Regions from separate parts of the Homo sapiens genome. Here all the other regions are linked to region 3. Evidence: fine-mapped expression QTL. A gene starts in region 3. Each other region holds a variant in brackets. All regions are shown on one strand. Distances are between the middles of the regions.

Region 1 (6,881 bases), 95 kb before region 3:
ACAGGAGGCTGAGGCAGGGGAATCGCTTGAACCTGGGAGGCGGAGGTTGCAGTGAGCCGAGATTGCGCCACTGCACTCTAGCCTGGCGACAGAGCAAGACTCTGTCTTAAAAAAAAAAAAAAAACCTTCCTAGGTAATAATTATGGACATGCTAAAACAGGCTTAGGGTCTGTAATATAAAGAATGATGCAATGCACCTTTCCTCTGCCCCCAGAGCTCAGTAGGGACCTTTCCCTTTCAAACACTGGGGCTCTTATTGGGGTAGAGATGGGGAGGGCAAACAAAGAAATCGGGTTTGTGGAGGCAAAACCAAGAGGTCTGACTAATGTTGCTCACCTCCTTCACGGCTGTGCGCAGCTGCTGCAGGGCTGAATCCCTTCGCTGGGCCTCCTCTCTCAGGGCCTGGCTTGTTCCTTCTTCTTGAGCCACTTCCTGCTCTAGGCTCTGAATCACACAGCAAGATGTTGAGGGAACACAGTAGGGGTAACAAGTCTGGTTCAGACAATATCACCGCTGGCTTGGACTATATAGTGACGACTCACCCTACCTACACCCTCATAAGAAATCATTTTAGAACAGTCCTGATTTGTGACCTCCCATTTAAACCCTCCTATAGCCCTTGACCACATACCAAATAGAGGTCAGCTTCTTAGCAGGGCATTCAAGGCCACTGTAGCTCCTACCTACTTTTCTAGTCATATCTCTTTCCACCCTCCACATGGCCAGCCTCTACACCGTCACGATGAATGACTGGCCCTCATCCCTGAAGGCTGCAGTGTCAATGCTTCTGCTCACTTCTCTTTTCCTTTCTTCAAGCTGCTCTTCTGCTGTTACCTCCAGGAAACCTCCAAGGCACACCTGAGCTGTCTTCAATCTGCAAATCAGATCTAATTAATCCTAATCCTACCTTGCTATCATATCCATCATGGCTTACGAGTACATCTGCTTAATATTCTAGTTGGCTATGCACATGATCCTTCGCTCCACTCAAACATAACTTTCTTGAGGGCAGGGAATGTGCTATTCAGCTGAGTTCACTATTTACCGAGCACTTACTGTGACCAGCATTGAGAAGAACACCAAACAGTTCCTGTCTTTTAGGAGTTAACAGTCAAGTGCTCTTGACAATACTGTCTACTAAATGCTGTTCAGAGACATGGAAAGGGGTAGAAGAGCATACTCACAGGTACCTAATCTAGTGAGTTGTGTGTAAGTGTGTCTGTGTTTGTGTGTGTAGGAGCGGTCAGGGGAAGGGAGATATTTAAGCTTTTAAACTTCTGCCTCTCATTCTCTTCATTCAATTTTTCCTCAAATTTTGAAACTGATTTGAATGAAGTGTGAAAATTTTTTTATATTTCTCATTTGGTATTAATAAAAAAAAAAACTGCTAAGGAAAACACCTCATGATCATGAAATAGCCAAAGTGACTATGATGAATCCATCTAATTCCAACAAATTCACATATATATATATATTTTATTTATTTATTTATTTATTTATTTATTTTGAGATGGGGTTTCACTCTGTCGCCCAGACTGGCTGGAGTGCAGTGGCGTGATCTCGGCTCACTGCAACCTCCACCTCCCAGGTTCAAACAATTCTCCTGCCTCAGCCTCCCAAGTAGCTGGGACTACAGGTGCATGACACCACGCCCAGCTAATCTTTTTGTATTCTTAGTAGAGACAGGGTTTCACCTTGTTAGCCAGGATGGTCTCAATCTCCTGACCTTGTGATCTGCCCACCTCGGCCTCCCAAAGTGCTGGGATTACAGGCGTGAGCCACCGTGTCCGGCCTCACCTGATATTTTAATTTGCCTAAGTAGTCTTATCATAGGTAAATGTGCCATTTAAAATGTCAGGCTTTTCCAAACTTTGCAGAACCCCAAGGGTTCTAGGAAACCTATTTTGAGATCCATTAAAAACTCTACTAAAAACCTGGGATTTTAAATGGGTATGTATTAAAATGCTTGCCAGGCTTGACTACCTCCTTACAGGACTTGAAAGAGGTGAACCAGATAGACGTAGCCCAATCCACATAATGGCAAAGGCAAGACTGCAGCCTCCACTTATTCCCTCAAAACGAGTGCATTTCGGGTGTTTTGGTGTGAAAACTTTTAGAGTCCAAAGAGACGCTGAGTGAACCTGCTTTACCCAGAATTTCTTGGAGAACCCAGTTAAAGACACTCCCACTCTGGCCCAAAATAGAAACCTGGAGTCATATTTGATTCTTCCCTATTCTTCAACCCCTACATCTTGTCAGTCACTGATTCCGCTTGATGTTACCTCCTAAAGTCACTTAAATCTGTCCCCTCACATCTCCTCGCTGCTATGCTGCCTTATGCCAGGTTCCCTCATCACCTCTCACGAGAATTTCTCCAACAGTCCCCCTGGACCTTTCTTCTCTCCAGGATGCCAATCTTCCACACTTGAGCCTGAGTTGCAAACCTGACCACATCACATCCCAATTACATGCTGTAATAGGCTGGGCATGATGGCTCACGCCTGTAATCCCAGCACTTTGGGAGGCCGAGGCGGGCAGATCACCTGAGGTCAGGAGTTCGAGACCAGTCTGGCCAACGTGGTGAAACCCCGTCTCTACAAAAAATACAAAAATTAGCCGGGCGTGATGGTGGGCACCCGTAATACCAGCTACTCGGGAGGCTGAGGCAGGAGAATTGCTTGAACCTGGGAGGCAGAGGTTACAGTGAGCCGAGATTGCGCCATTGCACTCCAGCCTGGGCGACAAGAGCGAGACTCTGTCTCCAAAAAAAAAAAAAAAAAAAAAAAAAAATGCTGTAATAGATGCCCACCACCTACATAAAGAATAAAAGCTAACTTAGTTGATAGATAAGGCCCTTCCATAGCCTGGAATGCCCAGGTCTCCATTTACCATCTTAAAGTGGATACGTCAGCAGTATCAAACTGCTTGCAGCACCACATTCAAACTATGCTGTTTCATGTCTCCATGTTCCCACTCATGCTGTTCCTCCTATCTGGAATCCAACACATCCTATCCAGCTCCTCTTGTTTGCCTGGCTAACTCCTCATCCTTGTAGGTTCAGGATCTCCAGAAACCTCTCTTTTACCTCCCTTCCTCCCACTGACTCTCCTGCACTCCCCCAGGATACTGTGGGGACTGCTCTCACAGTACTGTGCTGAAACTCCCTACTATATTTGTGTCCTCTCAGCAAGGCTCAAAAGCACTGACTGGGTCTCATTCTTTTTGTATCCCTAACACTGAGCAACCTGCATGGCAGAGAACAAAATAAATATTGGCTAAATTCTAGAGATTCCATCATTAAGTTCTGCCCACCATGTCCCAAGGATTCCTGCTCACCTGTACTTGTGAGCGCAACTGATCCATCTTCTGCTGCTGCTTCTCCACAATCTGAAAGGCAAAGTTATCAAGGAAGGCTGCGAGCACAAGGCTGACGGTGAGGACAGAGGGCAAGGGGGCTGCACTAGGACATGTGGTCTGGCTATTAGACCATTAAGAGTAAGACCAGGATAAAGATTAGTGAACTCTACCTATAGGAATATAAACCAGACTCCTAATCCTGGCTAACTAGCTTCACAGTTGTGCTCCAATCACAAAGGTTTATACAGGAATGTAGTGTG[A/G]ACACATAACCACTACTGGGGGAAAGGGAACTCTCACCCTAATAACTGCAGGCCAGTGGAATCAATTTTATAAACAGCCAGTGCAAACTCTTGTTCTTTGGTACAAGGACATGGCTAAAAATTCAGTCTAATGAAGCTTGCCATTTCTAGCACTATGATGGTTGTTGTTATTTACAGCTCTGGTCGTACTGATTATCCAAGAAGGGACCCTAAATAGGCCTGGTTTCTTTGAATCATTTATGGGTCTTCTTTTTTTTTTACTAACCTGCAGTCAGTTTCACCAGCCGGCCCCTGGCTCTCTCGTCTTTGCTGAATTAAGAAACCAGGGCACCTCACTGGTTAGAACTCTGTTCAATTCAAGGGTTTCTGTATGGGCCTGAGCCATGAATAAAGTGCACCAAACTTTACTGCACCATTTTGGGTCATCTAATCTAGATATTCAGAGGCATATCACCCCTCCTCTTACTTTTGCCTATATTCTAAATGAGTGAAGTTTGCCTGTTACAAGGATGACTATCTAAATACAAATTACTATGCAGGGTGACTTCTCCGAAAAGAAAGAAAAGCTCTTGGTAACAAATCCTAGATAGCCCAAAGCCAAGAATTCACGTATCCCTCCTAATACACAATCTTCTCTTTCCTCCCAGCCTACCCTCCGTTACAGCCTGGACACCCTCAGTCACCTTTTGGAGCGAATCGTATCGCTTCTGCCAGGACTCCATTTCCACTTCTGGACCTTCTCCACTGGTCTCCTCCACAGACTGTTTATCTTGCAGGCTGAAAGACAGTGGCCTCTTCAAGAACTCTGAAGTTAGACACAAGTGGCTTTGATTCTTGGTTCTGCTACTTATTGCACATTTTGAGGCAAGACACTTAGTCCAAGCAGTAGCTGGGGATAATACTTGGGTCTGCTGTAATATATGGGGTGCCACACAAAAGCTGCTCAGTGTATGTTAATTCTCTTCCCTAAGGGCCAGAATCTATACAATGTGACACCAATTCTCTACCTGCCCAAGGCTCTTGTGTATTTTGTTTTGATATTTAAAAAATACATATTTATCACATGTATTTAGATTGTAAGTCATACATGTACATTGTAGAAAGTTTGGAAAATACAAAAGCTGTTTTCTTGGCACACACAGTCTGGGGCAAAGCCAACTTTGTCCTCTAACCCCACTTCTGACTCTAACCAATGGTTTCCTCCAGTGGGTCCCTACAATTACTTATAGCAAAGCCCATCTGCTGAGATAAACAACAGGGACACTGTGGTTAAATATGGGATGAGAAATCCAATCTATCCCATTAGAAACTGGATTTGGTCCAAGAGGCTGTTGAAACACACCATTATTTTCAGAAACTGCTATTAATATGGAGAAGGCTCCCAAGACATCCTGAGAGTACATTATGGCATCTTGTTTTGTTCTCAGAACCTGTCATGGCAATGGAGAACAATCCCTAGGGCTGAGGAGAAAGGCTCCTGGTAGCCTTTAGCCTACACAGCTCGAACTGTGGATAACTCTCAGTTCTTATCACCAGTACCCACTTTTGAAAGTATACAGACACCTCATTTCCCAGTTTACAAAGTGCTTTCATTTATTCAACACATACATACTAAGAATTATGTGCCAGGCACTGGGTTAGATCCTTACAAAGGCTATGAAGATAAGCCCCCACTGCATCCATACTCCATGCCAAAGATATAAAAGCCGCTTCCTGGCCGGGCGCGGTGGCTCACACCTGTAATCCCAGCACTTTGGGAGGCCAAGGAGGGTGGATCACGAGGTCAGGAGATCGAGACCACGGTGAAACCCCGTCTCTACTAAAAATACAAAAAAGATTAGCCAGGCGCAGTGGCGGGCGCCTGTAGTCCCAGCTACTCAGGAGGCTGAGGCAGGAGAATGGTGTGAACCTGGGAGGCGGAGCTTGCAGTGAGCCAAGATTGCACCACTGCACTCCAGCCTGGGCGACAGAGCAAGACTCCGTCTCAAAAAAAAAAAAAAAAAAAAAAGCCGCTTCCCATAAGCAGCTTTCCTATTATTCACAGTCCAAAGAAAACAAAGCTCAGATAAGTAAAATGATTTTCCCAAATCACCCAAAGTCACACAGGTAAGTGAGCAGGATGGCTATGACAAAAAACTTAACTCTCCACTCCTCTCAGTCCCACAGGGTTATTTACCTATGTCCAGCGGAGGAGAATTCTGCTTCTCTCTGCCTCAGGCTTTCCAGTTGAATCTCCTTCTCTCTGCAGATTGCCTGGGTCTCCTCCAGCAAACTCTCCAGCTCAGTCACTTTCTCCTGCAGCTCTGTGCTCTTCAACTCAGAATCCTTAAGCTGAGAGACAGGATCCCATGTTTAGGTCAAATAAGCCAAGTGTTATAAATGCAAAATGCTTGTTCCTCGGTGTCACAAAGAAATAGCACTCAAACCTATATTTAATTTCCTCAGCAAGGCAATTTTTACTTTCTGCAGAAAGGGTGCTCCTCGCAGATGGAACAATGGTGAGAACACAACTGGACAGGGGAGGGGAAGGAGTTCTTATTTCTGACGCAGGTAGTCCCTACTGCTATGTCGTTCCCCTATTGGCTAGGGTTGAACCACACAGTCTAAGCTAATTCTGATTGGCTATTTTAAAGGGAACAGGTTTATGAGCCAGAGTGGTGGGGTGAGTAGTTTGGTGGGAAGGACAGTTAGGAACAGGTAATTAAAGGTGACTTAGGTCAGAGCAGGTGACCAGGGTGACTCAGGTCAAAGCAGGTGACCGGGATGAGTCAGGACGGAGTAGGTGACCGGGGGAACAGATGTGAACTACTGATTAAAACTGGTGGAAAAGGTTGTTTACTGAAACTAGAAGCAAGAGGGCGAAGAGAACCAGGAAGTTAAACTTTAAAATAGTGAATCAAAGAGTAAGAGACCTGAACTTACTGATTCTTTGAAGAGAAACTTGGGGTTCACTTTAACATAAGGAAGACTCTGTCTGGGTACCTCAAAAAATTTGCAGTCTGGTTACAAATCTGACAATTATGAATCTGGACATGACTGCTTTGGGATTCTCCTTTCAGCAAGTCACAGGATAACTGCATACAGCAGATGATGAAAAAGTTCCCCTGCCTGGCCACTCCCTGATCACCCCAGGCATGCCAAGACATTGCTGCTACCTGCTGGCTCTGCTTCTGATGGTCTTCCAGTGTGGGCAGGTCAGCCAGGTAGCGCTCCAAGGTCTCAATACGCTGCTGCTTCTCCCGGTTCTGCTCTGATTCCTTCTGG
Region 2 (5,000 bases), 22 kb before region 3:
TGGAGTCTGGATTCCAGTTCCTCCACCAATAGGGTGGGGGACCTCTGTGGGGCCCAGGCTCTGCCTTATAAATGGTGAGGGCGTGAGGCCAGAAGACTCTGACGCTCCGCCCAGCCTTGACTCACATGACTTGGGGGCAGCCCCAGTACCCTCCCCTACATGTTGAGTTCATCTCGGATCTCCTTGTACTGCCTCAGGTTCTCCTGTATTGCCTCAAGCACCAAGCAAAAGTTGTCACACGTGTTTTCTGAGAGGTTCGACAGGGGGCCTCCCGCAAGGGGTTCCTGGAGGAGACCAGATTTCTCCGAGCGGGCGACCACACAATGCACCAGTGGCAGCTGGTCATTCTCCTCCTCTTCCTCTGCGCCTGTCTGGGAAGCGGGGGATAGAGAGGGGTCGGGACAGCTCAGGCAGGCACGCCCCCGGCACCCTTTTCCTGCTTGGCTTCAGGATGAGTCTCTTAGGACCCCAGGGTTCTAAGGCCCTCATTTCAGCTCTCACCAATCTTAGCCTCACTGCCTTGCTGGGGGAACCCAACTTTAAATGCACATGACCTCCCCCCACCTCTTTAAAAATTCTCACCCCATTTCAAAATTTAGCCCTGCCCCAGATTTCAACCCTGATAAACCCTACCCAGCAAATTTATAAAGCCCTGCCTACCCTCAAGCCCAGGCCTCCAGCACTCCACTCTTTTAGAAGTACTCCACCCCTTTCCCCAACCTTATGGAAGTACTGCCCTGAATGAATAATACCGTAGCTAACATTTATTGAGTGCTTACTATGCGCCAAGCACTGTTCATTTACCCATTAACCCTCATAAAATAACCCTATGAGTTAAGTACTATTATTATTCCCATTTTACAAAAGAAAAAAATTGAGGCTTAGAGTGGGTAAATGCCCCAAGGTCACCCAGCTGCTCAGTTTTGAGTTGCCATAGAAATCTAACATCTAGAAAATCCACACCCCTCAGAAGCCCCAGTTGGTGGGTGGGCACTCAAGATGGGGGGCTGCTGCCTCCAGGCCTCCAACTTGGCTTTCTCCAGGCCCTTGATTATGCAAGCACACACATACATGCACATATGTTCAAGTCCGCTCTCATACACACTCCTTTTCCTCCCTTCTGCCCTCCCCATCCCACGCACCTCACTAAAGGTTATTCGTTGCTGTTGTCCCTGCTCTCCTGCCTTCATCATTTGCTCCAGGTTGGTGGTCACCACGATGACGAACAGGTTGATGCCAATGAAGGCACCGATGGTGATGAAGATGGTAAAGTAGATGGCACCCCCAATCTCCATTGCATATTCCCTCTTCTCTGTCCTGCAGATGGCAGGCAGGGGCCCCATCATTTCCCTGGCCCTTCAAGCCTGAGTTTCCTTGTCATTGAAATGGGAAAATCATCCCAAGGCCTACTAGAACTTCTGCCTGTGTCACTGCTGTTGTGCAGATCCCATTCCCTACTCCTGTCTCAATAGCTGCTCTCTACTAAGCACCTACTGTGCTGCCAGACAGTGAGCTGATTCTCTAACCAACCCTGCAAGGTGGGGACGTGCACATCAACACTATTAAGTTTAATCTATTAGCTACACTCCTTTTTTTTTTTTTGAGATGGAGTCTCGCTGTGTTGCCCAGACTGGAGTGAAGTGGCGTGATCTCGGCTCACTGCAAGCTCCACCTCCTGGGTTCATGTCGTTCTCCCGCCTCAGCCTCCCAAGTAGCTGAGACTACAGGTGCTTGCCACCACGCCTGGCTAATTTTTTTTTTTTTTTTTTGAGACAGAGTCTCACTCTGTCACCTAAGCTGGAGTGCAGTGGCGTGATATGGGTTCACCGCAACCTCCGCCTCCCAGGTTCAAGCGATTCTCCTGCCTTAGCCTCCTGAGTAGCTGGGATTACAGGCGCCCCACCGTCCGGCTAATTTTTGTATATTTAGTAGAGACGGGGTTTCACCTTTTTGGCCAGGCTGGTCTTGAACTCCTGACCTTGTGATCCACCTGCCTCAGCCTCCCAAAGTGCTGGGATTACAGGTGTGAGCCACTGCACTGGGCTTTGTTTTTGTATTTTTAGTAGAGATGGGGTTTCACTGTGTTAGCCAGGATAGCCTTGATCTGACCTCGTGAGCTGCCCACCTCGGCCTCCCAAGGTGCTGGGATTACAGGCGTGAGCCACCGCGCCCGGCCCCGGCCAGCCTGATTTTTATCCACTACCTATGCCATAATGGAGAATGACTGTAGAAGCCCTTTATCTACTGGGCTTCTATACTCACATGTAGAAGATAAAAAGAAATCAGTTAAGGGGTCCCACTTTCTGGA[A/G]TAAACTGGAAAGAAATAGGGCTTAGACTTAATAGAAAAGAGGTAAAGAACAGAACACAAAAATGAATGTGGGCAGTGGGTTTAAGAATGAATGAAATGAGACCTGAAGTTCCCAGGAGTTCAGGCAGTTTGGTGGGCTCCAAGGTGGGCTGGGAGGTTGCTCTGTAACCTGAGGCATAACTGCAGACCTGCTGCCTTATCCAAGGCCAACTACCCAGCTGGTTAGCATGATGGGAGAGGTCCCCATTACAGGGTGGGAATGGGACTCTGAATATATGGAGATTCAAGGGTGACAAGGCTTCAGGTATCACAAGTCCAGGTATTTCCTTTTCCTCTGTTTAAAGACCTGGGAACCCCCACTTCTACTGGGCCATCCTCATCCCAATCCCTGGAGCTCCCACTCTCAGCCTGGAGCTCCACCGGCTACCCTGCCCCATAGGTGGGATGAGGCTGGAAGTCCCACTGGCACTCACTGGAAGTCACTGTAGATGTCCACCCAGCCGTCCTGGGTGATGCAGATGAAGAGGGTGTACAGCGCAACCTGTATGTTCTGGAAATGCTTGGGCACGAATGCACCAAAGAGTGTTACTCCAAACACGGAAAAAACCTGTCAGAGAGAAAAGAGCCCCACCCCGACTTCACCAAAGGGCCTGGAAATAGGACACACAAATGTCATGTAAATGAACGCTGCTGAGGAAATCACAGGGATTCAGGCCCACAGGCCTCTCTGCTTTTCCAGACACCCCTCTATTTGCAATGACCCAAGGGCCCTGTTCAGGGAAGGGAAACAGCTGGGGGCGGGGGCAGGCACTGACCAGCATGAAGAAGAGGATGAGGACCATGATATTGGCCATGTCAGGCACCGACTGCAGGATGACGCGGATGATCCGGGCGAGGGGCTCCACCGCCATGCACACATGCACCAGACGAAGCGCCCTGTGGCAGAGCCTGTCAGGGGTGCCCCTAGGCCCTTCCCAGCCCCTTCCCTCCTCATTACCCCCACCAGCTGCCCAGAGAGGCAAAGCTGATCTCCAGCTGGTCGTTATCCCCCCATCTCATTCCTGGGTTCCAGATAGGTCCCCCTCATTTCTCCAGAGCTCCCCGCTCACCTGAGAGTGTAGTTGATGGAGGGAATATTGATTTCATTAATGAAGAACCGCAAGAGCAAGATAAAGACGATAATGAAGTTGAGGATGTTCCAGCCGTCCTGGGGAGTGGGCCAGCCCCAGTGGGGTCTGTCAGGCCCAGCCCATGGGGGCATCCTAGGTCTGCCCTCCCCACATCCCAGGGATGAGGGCTCAATGTCCCTCTCAGAGCAGGGCCAGTCAGCTGCCATCCACTGCTGTTACCCTGCCGCCCCCCAAACAAGCCACAAAACACACGTGTACTCTCTGTCCCATACATGTGTCAATAGCCAAATGCAGTCTCAGAGACACACAGCAAAGACCCTTACAGATACATGGCTGGTCCCTAAGCTGAGTGCCCACCTTGGCTAAAGCATGCTCAAAACAGCCTTGCCCTACAGGTAGGTAACATGAAAACACTTGGCTGTTCCTGCCTTTGTGTGACACACACTACAATTAATAATAAAATGAAAATGGATACTAGTAAAAACATAAGGAATACTGCTTCAGTAGCCAGTTCTGAGGTGAAATAGCTCTCACGGCACAAGAAAGGGAGACAGGCGGGCCAGGCGCGATGGCTCACACCTGTAATCCCAGCACTTTGGGAGTCTGAGGCAGGTGGATCACGATGTCAGGAGTTTGAGACCAGCCTGGCCAACATGGTGAAACTCCATCTCTACTAAAAATACAAAAATTATCTGGGCATGGTGGCACGTGCCTGTAGTCCCAGCTACTTGGGAGGCTGAGGCAGGAGAGTTGCTTGAACCCAGGAGGCGGAGGTTGCAGTGAGCCAAGATTGCGCCACTGCACTCCAGCCTGGGTGACAGAGTGATAATCTCAAAAAAAAAAAAAAAAGAAAGAAAAGAAAGAAAGGGAGACTGGTACATTTTGCAAGCCCTTTGTCCAATAAGACACTTACACAGGAATGAGATGGGGAGGAGAAGGAAACTCACAGGTATGAAAAATCTGAACAGGGATCACACTTCTAGAAATCTGATCCACAGATACTCTGGTTGAAGTACAAAATTACATTTGTATAAGGTTAAGAATAACCAACATGCCAGGTGCAGTGGTGCAAGCCTGTAATTCCAGCACTTTGGGAGGCTGAGGTGGGAGGATTGCTTGAGCTCAGGAGTTCCAGACCAGCCTGGGCAACATGGTGAAACCCTGTCTCTACAAAAAACTATAAAAATTAGACAGGGGTGTTGGCATGTGCCCCTGTAGTCCCAGCTACTTGGAGGGCTGAGAGGATCACTTGAACCCAGGAGGTCGAGGCTGCAGTGAGCCGAAATGGGTGTCATTGCACTCCAGCCTGAGCAACAGGGGTGAGACCCTGTCTCAAAAAAAAAAAAAAAAAAAAAAAAAAGGAAAAGAAAACCAACGTGTCAAATGATCAGAAGAGACTGATTGGATAAACTATGGCACATTAAATTCCATTAAATCAATGGAATACTATGTAGCTATGTAGCTATAAAAAGAAAAATGAGGCCAGGTATGGTGACCCTTGCCTGTAATCCTGGTGCTTTGAGAGGCTGGCGGGAGAGGATTGCTTGAGGCCAAGAGTTTGC
Region 3 (6,881 bases):
CACTGAGTTGAGAAGCAGGAAAGTATAGGACATGGGTTCTTAAAAGTGGCCCCCAGACCAGCAGCAGCAGACTCACCGGAGAACTTGTTAGAAATGCAAATTATCAGGCCTCACCCCACACCTGCTGAATCAGAAACTCTGAGGTTGGGGCCCAGCAGTCTTTTTTTTGTTTTTGTTTTGTTTTTTCTTTTTGAGACAGGGGCTTGAGACACAGTCACGGCTCACTGCAGCCTTGACCTCCTAGGCTCAATCCATCCTCCCACCTCAGCCTCCCAAGTAGCTGGGACTACAGGCACACACCACCACACCCAGCTAATTTTTGTATTTTTTGCAGAGGTGGGATTTCACCATGTTGCCCAGGCTAGTCTCGAACTCCTGGGCTCAAGCAATTTGACTGCCTCAGTCTCTGAAAGTGCTAGAATTACAGGTGTGAGCCACGACGCCCAGCCAGCAGTTTGTATTTTAATGCAGGTGACTGTGATGCTCCCTTAAGTTTGAGAACTAATGATACAGGGGATAAGAACAAGAGGCTATGGAGTCACTGAGACACTGTGAACACTTGAGCAAGTAATAGCACTGCTCTGTGCCCAGTTTTCTCACCTGTAATGTGAGAATAATAAAAGTACCTACCTTCTAATCATGTGTGTATTGAATGACACAACATATGTCAAGGCCTTGGCCACTGTCTGGTTCGTGGGAGACAGCCAATAATAGCCATCATATTATTATTGCCAGACTTTACCATGACCTACAGGCCCTGTATGATTAGGCTACTACCTCCCTTTCCAGCATCATATCCTGAAGAGCCCCCTAAACTCAACATTTCAGATGCACAGAGCTAATTCCTTGCAGCTCCTGGAACACCCTTTTACCTCAGCGTCCTTGCAAGTGCTATTCCTCCTGCTGGCGTTGCTCTTCTATCTCCTTCACTTCCTTTTTCATCTAACTTCCTCCAGGAAGCCTTCCATAACTTCCCAGGCTGAGTGGGATGGAGGGCTCTCCTCTTGTTCCCACTGCCCCTGAGCCTCCACAAACCCCTGCACTTGACCATCGGTCTTTCCCATTTTATCACAGGCTCTTCAAAGATCAGGCCTTAGATAACCATTTGTCTCTAACCCCCGGCCTGTGCCTGGACAAGGTAGGCACTGAAAAATAAGAAAAGTGTCTATTGAGGGCTTACTATGTGCTATGCAAATCTATAAGAGCTTTACACATATTAACACATTTGATTCTCACTGCATTTCTAGGAGGTAAAGACTATCATTATCCTGCTTACAGATGGGAAAACTGACACAGAGGTTAAGTAGCTTGCTCACTCTTCGAAGGAATTCTTCCCCTTCTAAGCCAGGCTCCTTCACTGGGGGAGGTGTGTGTGTGTGTTCCCTGTGTCACATTGAGAGCACTGGACTGGGAGTTCATGAACCTATCACTCCCTGGCTATGGGCCCCTGAGCCACCTCCTTCCTGCACGGTGACTGTATTGGGCTGGTGCCCTCCCAATAGACCCAGGCATTGAGCTACAAATGAACTATGTCATGATTGTCTCACTTTGTCGACTTCATAAGGTCAGAGTTGCCTTTCCCATTTGATGGACAGAAAAACTAAGACCTATGGTCACAGAGCTGGCAAGCGGTGGGGGTGGGCCTGGAATCCAGCCTGGGAGTCTGAACCCAGCCCTGAATTCCTGCCCTTACCCGGGCTGGTCCTCCTGAGCCTGTCTCTAGTGCGCTCCAGCTCCCCACTCTGGGAGGGGTGTCCTGACTGCCTGCTCCTGGTCGCACTGTGTGTCAGGAGGCCCTTCCTTCTCTGAGTCTGCCTGTGGGGTGTGTTGCTTCCCATCTGTGTGGGCTCGCTGAGCCTGGACAGCACCTTGCCCCTTGGATAGGAGCCCCAGGGTGGGGCTGTGTCAACCTCTTCAGTCTGGCCTAGGGCTTCTGCTTCTGTCACTAGGAGCTCAGGGTGTGGAGCGGGGAAAATGACACCAGAGACTGAGCAAATCATTTCCTGGCTCTGTGTGTCAGTTTCTGACTCTAAGAAACGGATTTAACAACAGCCCACTGGCCCTGGGGCCAGGGAAGATGAAGGAGATACAGTGGGTGTGGGCCTGTCAGGCCTCCCTCCTGTTTTCATGACACCGCCTCCCCATTATCACCCTAGAGGCCTCTTGGGCTACTGCCATGATGAGGGGCCCCCTTCTGGGTCCTTGGGCCCCCCAGGGTCATCTCATCTGTCTCTCTGCCCAGCACGGTTCCTGGAACATGTTAGGTGCTCTGTAAATATTTGTTGACTGACTGACCGACTGATAGAGCCCGCAGTTTATTATTTTTTTTTTTCTTTTGAGCTGAATCTCGCTCTGTCGTCCAGACTGGAGTGCAGCGGTGCAATCTCGGCTCACTGTAACCTCTGCCTCCTGGGTTCAAGCGATTCTCCTGCCTCAGCCTCCCAAGTAGCTGGGATTACAGGCACCTGCCACCACCCCCAGATAATTTTTGTATTTTTAGTAGAGACGGGGTTTCACCATGCTGGTCTTGAACTCCCGACCTCAGGTGACCCACCCACCTTGGCTTCCCAAAGTGCTGGGATTACAGGTGTGAACCAGCGCACCCAGTCCGCAGATTTTTTTTCCTTTTCCTCTCCTCCCGCTTCCCGGTGGGACACCACACCTAGTCCCCTTCAAGCCCAACTCTACCCCAGCCCCACCCACCTCTCAGCCAAGTTGCCACCTTTCCGGGGGTCCAGGTCTCTACCGGTTCCATGGCCCAGCTCTGCCAGCTCGAATCAGCTCCTGTTTTGCCCTGCTGTCGCCGGAATTTCCGCTCCCAGAGCCCAGGCCTAAGGAGGGGCCGGGCTGGGTCCTGGGCGGAGCCTACTGCATACCTGGGCTCACACAGACGGCAAGATGAGGCACTGCGACAGCCATTGGCCCACGCCCGTCCGCCTCCTGCCCGGCCCTTCAGACATCCTAGGGCTCTGGCATCTCGCGCCTGCTAGGGGGCAGTGCCACTGGCCTCATATCGCGGGGTGGGACCCTGACCCTTGGGCTCCTCAAGAAAAAGCCACAAGAGGAGCGCTGAAATCAGTAGCAAAGCACAGAGGCTAGGGGGCCAGGTCCCTGGGTGCCTAGGCCAGCTCTTGTTAGCTGTGTGACCTGGGGCTGACCCTAACTTCTGCGCCTCAGTTTCTGGGTCTGTAAAAGAGATATAATAGACCGTACTTCAAAGGGCAGCTGTGCACAGTATCTGAATGGCTTGAAAACATTTAGAACTGGGGTGTTTAGCCTCCCTTGGATTTTGCAGTATGGACTCTGGCATCTGGTGAGGCCTGTGAATGCTTTCTCAGAATAGCTGCTTATAAAGGCATAAAACAGGCCGGGCGCGGTGGCTCACGCCTGTAATCCCAGCACTTTGGGAGGCCGAGGTGGGCGGATCACTTGAGATCAGGAGTTCAAGACCAGCCTGGCCAATATGGTGAAACACCATCTCTACTAAAAATACAAAAAATTAGCTGGGCGTAGTGGGTGCTTGTAATCCCAGCTACTCAGGAGGCTGAGGCAGGAGAATCCCTTGAACCCAGGAGGGGGAGGTTCCAGTGAGCCAAGATCGTGCCACTGCACTCCAGCCTGGGCAACAGAGCAAAACTCTGTATTATAAATAAATAAATAAATGCACAAAACAAAATGCTTAGGATTACAATGAGAACAATTATCAAAACTATATTTAAAAACAAATTTGGCCGGGCATGGTGGTTCACGCCTGTAATTCCAGCACTTTGGAAGGCCAAGGCGGGTGGATCATGAGGTTAAGAGATGGAAACCAGCCTGCCCAACATGGTGAAACCCCGTCTCTACTAAAAATACAAAAATTAGCTGGGTGTGGTGGTGCACGCCTGTAGTCACAGCTACTCAGGAGGCTGAGGCAGGAGAATCGCTTGAACCTGGGAGGCGGAGGTTGCAGTGAGCTGAGATCACGCCTCTGCACTCCAGCCTGGCAACAAAGCAAGACTCCGTCTCAAAAAAAAAACCCACAAAAAACAAAAAAAAAATTTGGAGCTGGGGAGTGCTGGCACACGACTGTAGTCCCAGCTACTCGAGAGGTTGAGAGGTTGAGCGGGGGAGTATCACTCAAGCCCAGGAGTCAAAGCCACCCTGGGCAACATAGCAGGAGCCCATCTCAAAAAAATAAAACCAGAAATTTATATTATGTGTTTACTAACATTAATAAGACTGGCCGAAAGTTAAATTTTTCTTTTTTAATGACCTCAGTGTGTTGTCGACCAGCTTGAATAAGGACATTAAACTGTGGGGTGGTCTTTGACGCCCCTCCTCTTACATATTGATCAGCAAACAACTAAAAACAGGGAATGCTGGGCCGGGCATGGTGGCTCACGCCTATAATCGAGACGGGCGGATTATGAGGTCAGGAGATCGAGACCATCCTGGCTAACATGGTGAAACCCCGTCTCTACTAAAAATACAAAAAATTAGCCAGGCATGGTGGCGGGCGCCTGTAGTCCCAGCTACTCAGGAGGCTGAGGCAGGAGAATGGCGTGAACCCAGGAGGCAGAGCTTGCAGTGAGCCGAGTTCGCGCCACTGCACTCTAGCCTGGGCGACAGAGCAAGACTTCGTCTCAAAAAAAAAAAAAAAAAGACAGGGAATGCAGAAGAGTGGAGAAGCCCTACTCAGAACAGGCAGATTCGCCCTTTGGTCACTGAACCACTGCTAAGCCTGGAGGTAACCAATTAATGGCGGCTACATCACAGGAGCATCTGAAACAGAAGTTGCTCACGAACAATTTAGTGGTGGTTTAACAACCACTGTGATTTTGAAATCACTTGAGCATAAATATTTTGAGATACTTGCAATAACTACAATTTGATATGAAAATATGTGATTTCTATTGGTGACTAAGCCAAAGATACTGCTACTGCTTCAATCCATATAGAAGGAAATCATAAATTTTGGTTAGAGTTTAGCAAAAATAAAAATATAATTTTTTCCCATCCAAGTTTATGGATCCCCTGAATTCTGAACCTCAGAGCAAGAGCTTTAATCTTAGAAAAATATCTGACACATAGTAAATGTTCATTTTCATCATCATCATCAGGTCAGGGGACTCCCAGGACTTTAGAATCAGATAAAATCAGCCGGGCGTGGTGGCTCAGGCCTGTAATCCCAGCACTTCAGGAGACCTATGCGGGCGGATCACCTGAGGTCAGGAGTTCGAGACCAGCCTGACCAACATGGAGCAACCCCATCTCTACTAAAAATACAAAATTAGCCGGGTGTGGTGGCACATGCCTGTAATCCCAGGTACTCGGGAGGCTGAGGCAGGAGAATTGCTTGAACTCATGAGGTAGAGGTAGCGGTGAGCTGAGATCGCGTCATTGCACTCCAGCCTGGGCAACAAAAGTGAAACTCCACCTCAAAAAAAAAAAGGCCGGGCGCGGTGGCTCATGCCTGTAATCCCAGCACTTTGGGAGGCCAAGGCGGGTGGATCATCTGAGGTCAGGAGTTCGAGATCAGCCTGGCCAACATAGAGAAGCCCTGTCTGTACTAAAAATCCAAAAAATTAGCCGGTCGTGGTGGCGGGCGCCTATAATCCCAGCAACTCGGAAGGCTGAGACAGGAGAATTGCTTGAACCCGGAAGCAGAGGTTGCAGTGAGCCGAGATTGCGCCACTGCACTCCAACCTGGGCAACAAGAGCAAAACTCTGTCTCAAAAAAAAAAAAAATCAGATAAAATCAGTTCCATACTCAACTGCTATGTGACTCAGCCCAACTTCTACAGCTCTCTGAATCTGTTTCTTTGTCTCCAGAAGGGGATTCCTAGGCCTTAGCACTGTGATGACATTAAGTACTTTGAAATCTGTATCATGGGGTAGATATGAGTTATTATTGCTTTAATTCTGTGGGGAGGAGCTACCTGTTGTCACCTACTTCAGAATTTCTGCAGCACCCCCAGTCATCAAAGCCTGTCACGACCTTACCTGTAACCCAGAGACCCAAAGTCTGAATTTCGCCCATGGTTGGCCCATGTAGTGTACGTGTGTTGTCATCATTTAATAACGTCACATCCAAATTGAGATTTCCAGCTTCTCTGAACTTGGCCAGCTCTGGTGATGCCATCCCACCTTCACACTTGGTATTAACAGCCTCTTTCATTTTGTGAGCCAGTTGGCTTCAAATTTGCAAAATGCCCGTCTCCAGCTTTGTCTTTTGCCTCAGGTCTGTGTCCCTTGAACACTCCGTGCTGCATCCTCGTTTAACATTTTTGCCTCTTCATGCAGCAGCCTCCCTGTGGCACTCTGGGGAAGTCCAGTAAATTCTAATAGAGCCTTTATCAGTGTTCGGTAGACAGATCTTGATTTCATCAAATATCTTTCCTGAGCTGCCACCAGAGGTGAGAACCAGCCCCCTCTCTCCCTGAACCACGGCGCCTTTACTCTACGCTCCCAGCATCTGCCAGGGTTAGGCAGTTAGGAACACAGTAAGTGGCAGCTTCTATTTATTTTTATCTATTTTTTTGAGACAGAGCTTTGCTCTTGTTGCCCAGGCTGGAGTGCAATGGCATGATCTTGGCTCACTGCAACCTCCGCCTCCCAGGTTCAAGCTATTCTCCTGCCTCTGCCTCCCAAGTAGCTGGGATTACAGGCGTGTGCCACCATGCTCGGCTAATTTTGTATTTTTAGTAGAGATGGGGTTTCACCATGTTGACCAGGCTGGTCTCAAACTCCTGACCTCAAGTGATCTCCTTGCCTCGGCCTCTCAAAGTGCTGGGATTACAGGCGTAAACCACCACGCCCGGCTGACAACTTCTATTTTAAAGGGTTTCATTTTGTTTTTTGAGAGAGTCTTGCTCCGCTGCCCAGGTTGGAGTGCAGTG

What was found. PIP is the estimated chance that this variant, and not a neighbour inherited with it, causes the effect.
Region 1: its variant is fine-mapped to the expression of CNKSR1 in whole blood (TOPMed, PIP 0.91).
Region 2: its variant is fine-mapped to the expression of CNKSR1 in blood mononuclear cells (TOPMed, PIP 0.97).

Annotation. Positions count from the first base shown.
Region 1 is chr1:26,268,527-26,275,407 of GRCh38, reverse strand. It overlaps CEP85 (centrosomal protein 85), which reads right to left. Exons shown (of 14, transcript NM_001319944.2): 8 at 6,773-6,881; 9 at 5,794-5,948; 10 at 4,301-4,394; 11 at 3,337-3,387; 12 at 337-444. Among named protein-coding and RNA genes, the nearest start is that of SH3BGRL3, 8.1 kb to the left of the region's middle. The variant A/G (reference allele first, on the strand shown) is at 3,618.
Region 2 is chr1:26,196,201-26,201,200 of GRCh38, reverse strand. It overlaps CATSPER4 (cation channel sperm associated 4), which reads right to left. Exons shown (of 10, transcript NM_198137.2): 4 at 3,418-3,515; 5 at 3,124-3,244; 6 at 2,782-2,915; 7 at 1,143-1,317; 8 at 160-371. Among named protein-coding and RNA genes, the nearest start is that of CATSPER4, 8.1 kb to the right of the region's middle. RefSeq lists an enhancer at 2,730-3,229. The variant A/G (reference allele first, on the strand shown) is at 2,309.
Region 3 is chr1:26,173,422-26,180,302 of GRCh38, reverse strand. It overlaps CNKSR1 (connector enhancer of kinase suppressor of Ras 1), which reads right to left and starts at 2,812. Exons shown (of 21, transcript NM_006314.3): 1 at 2,704-2,812. The coding sequence starts at 2,755.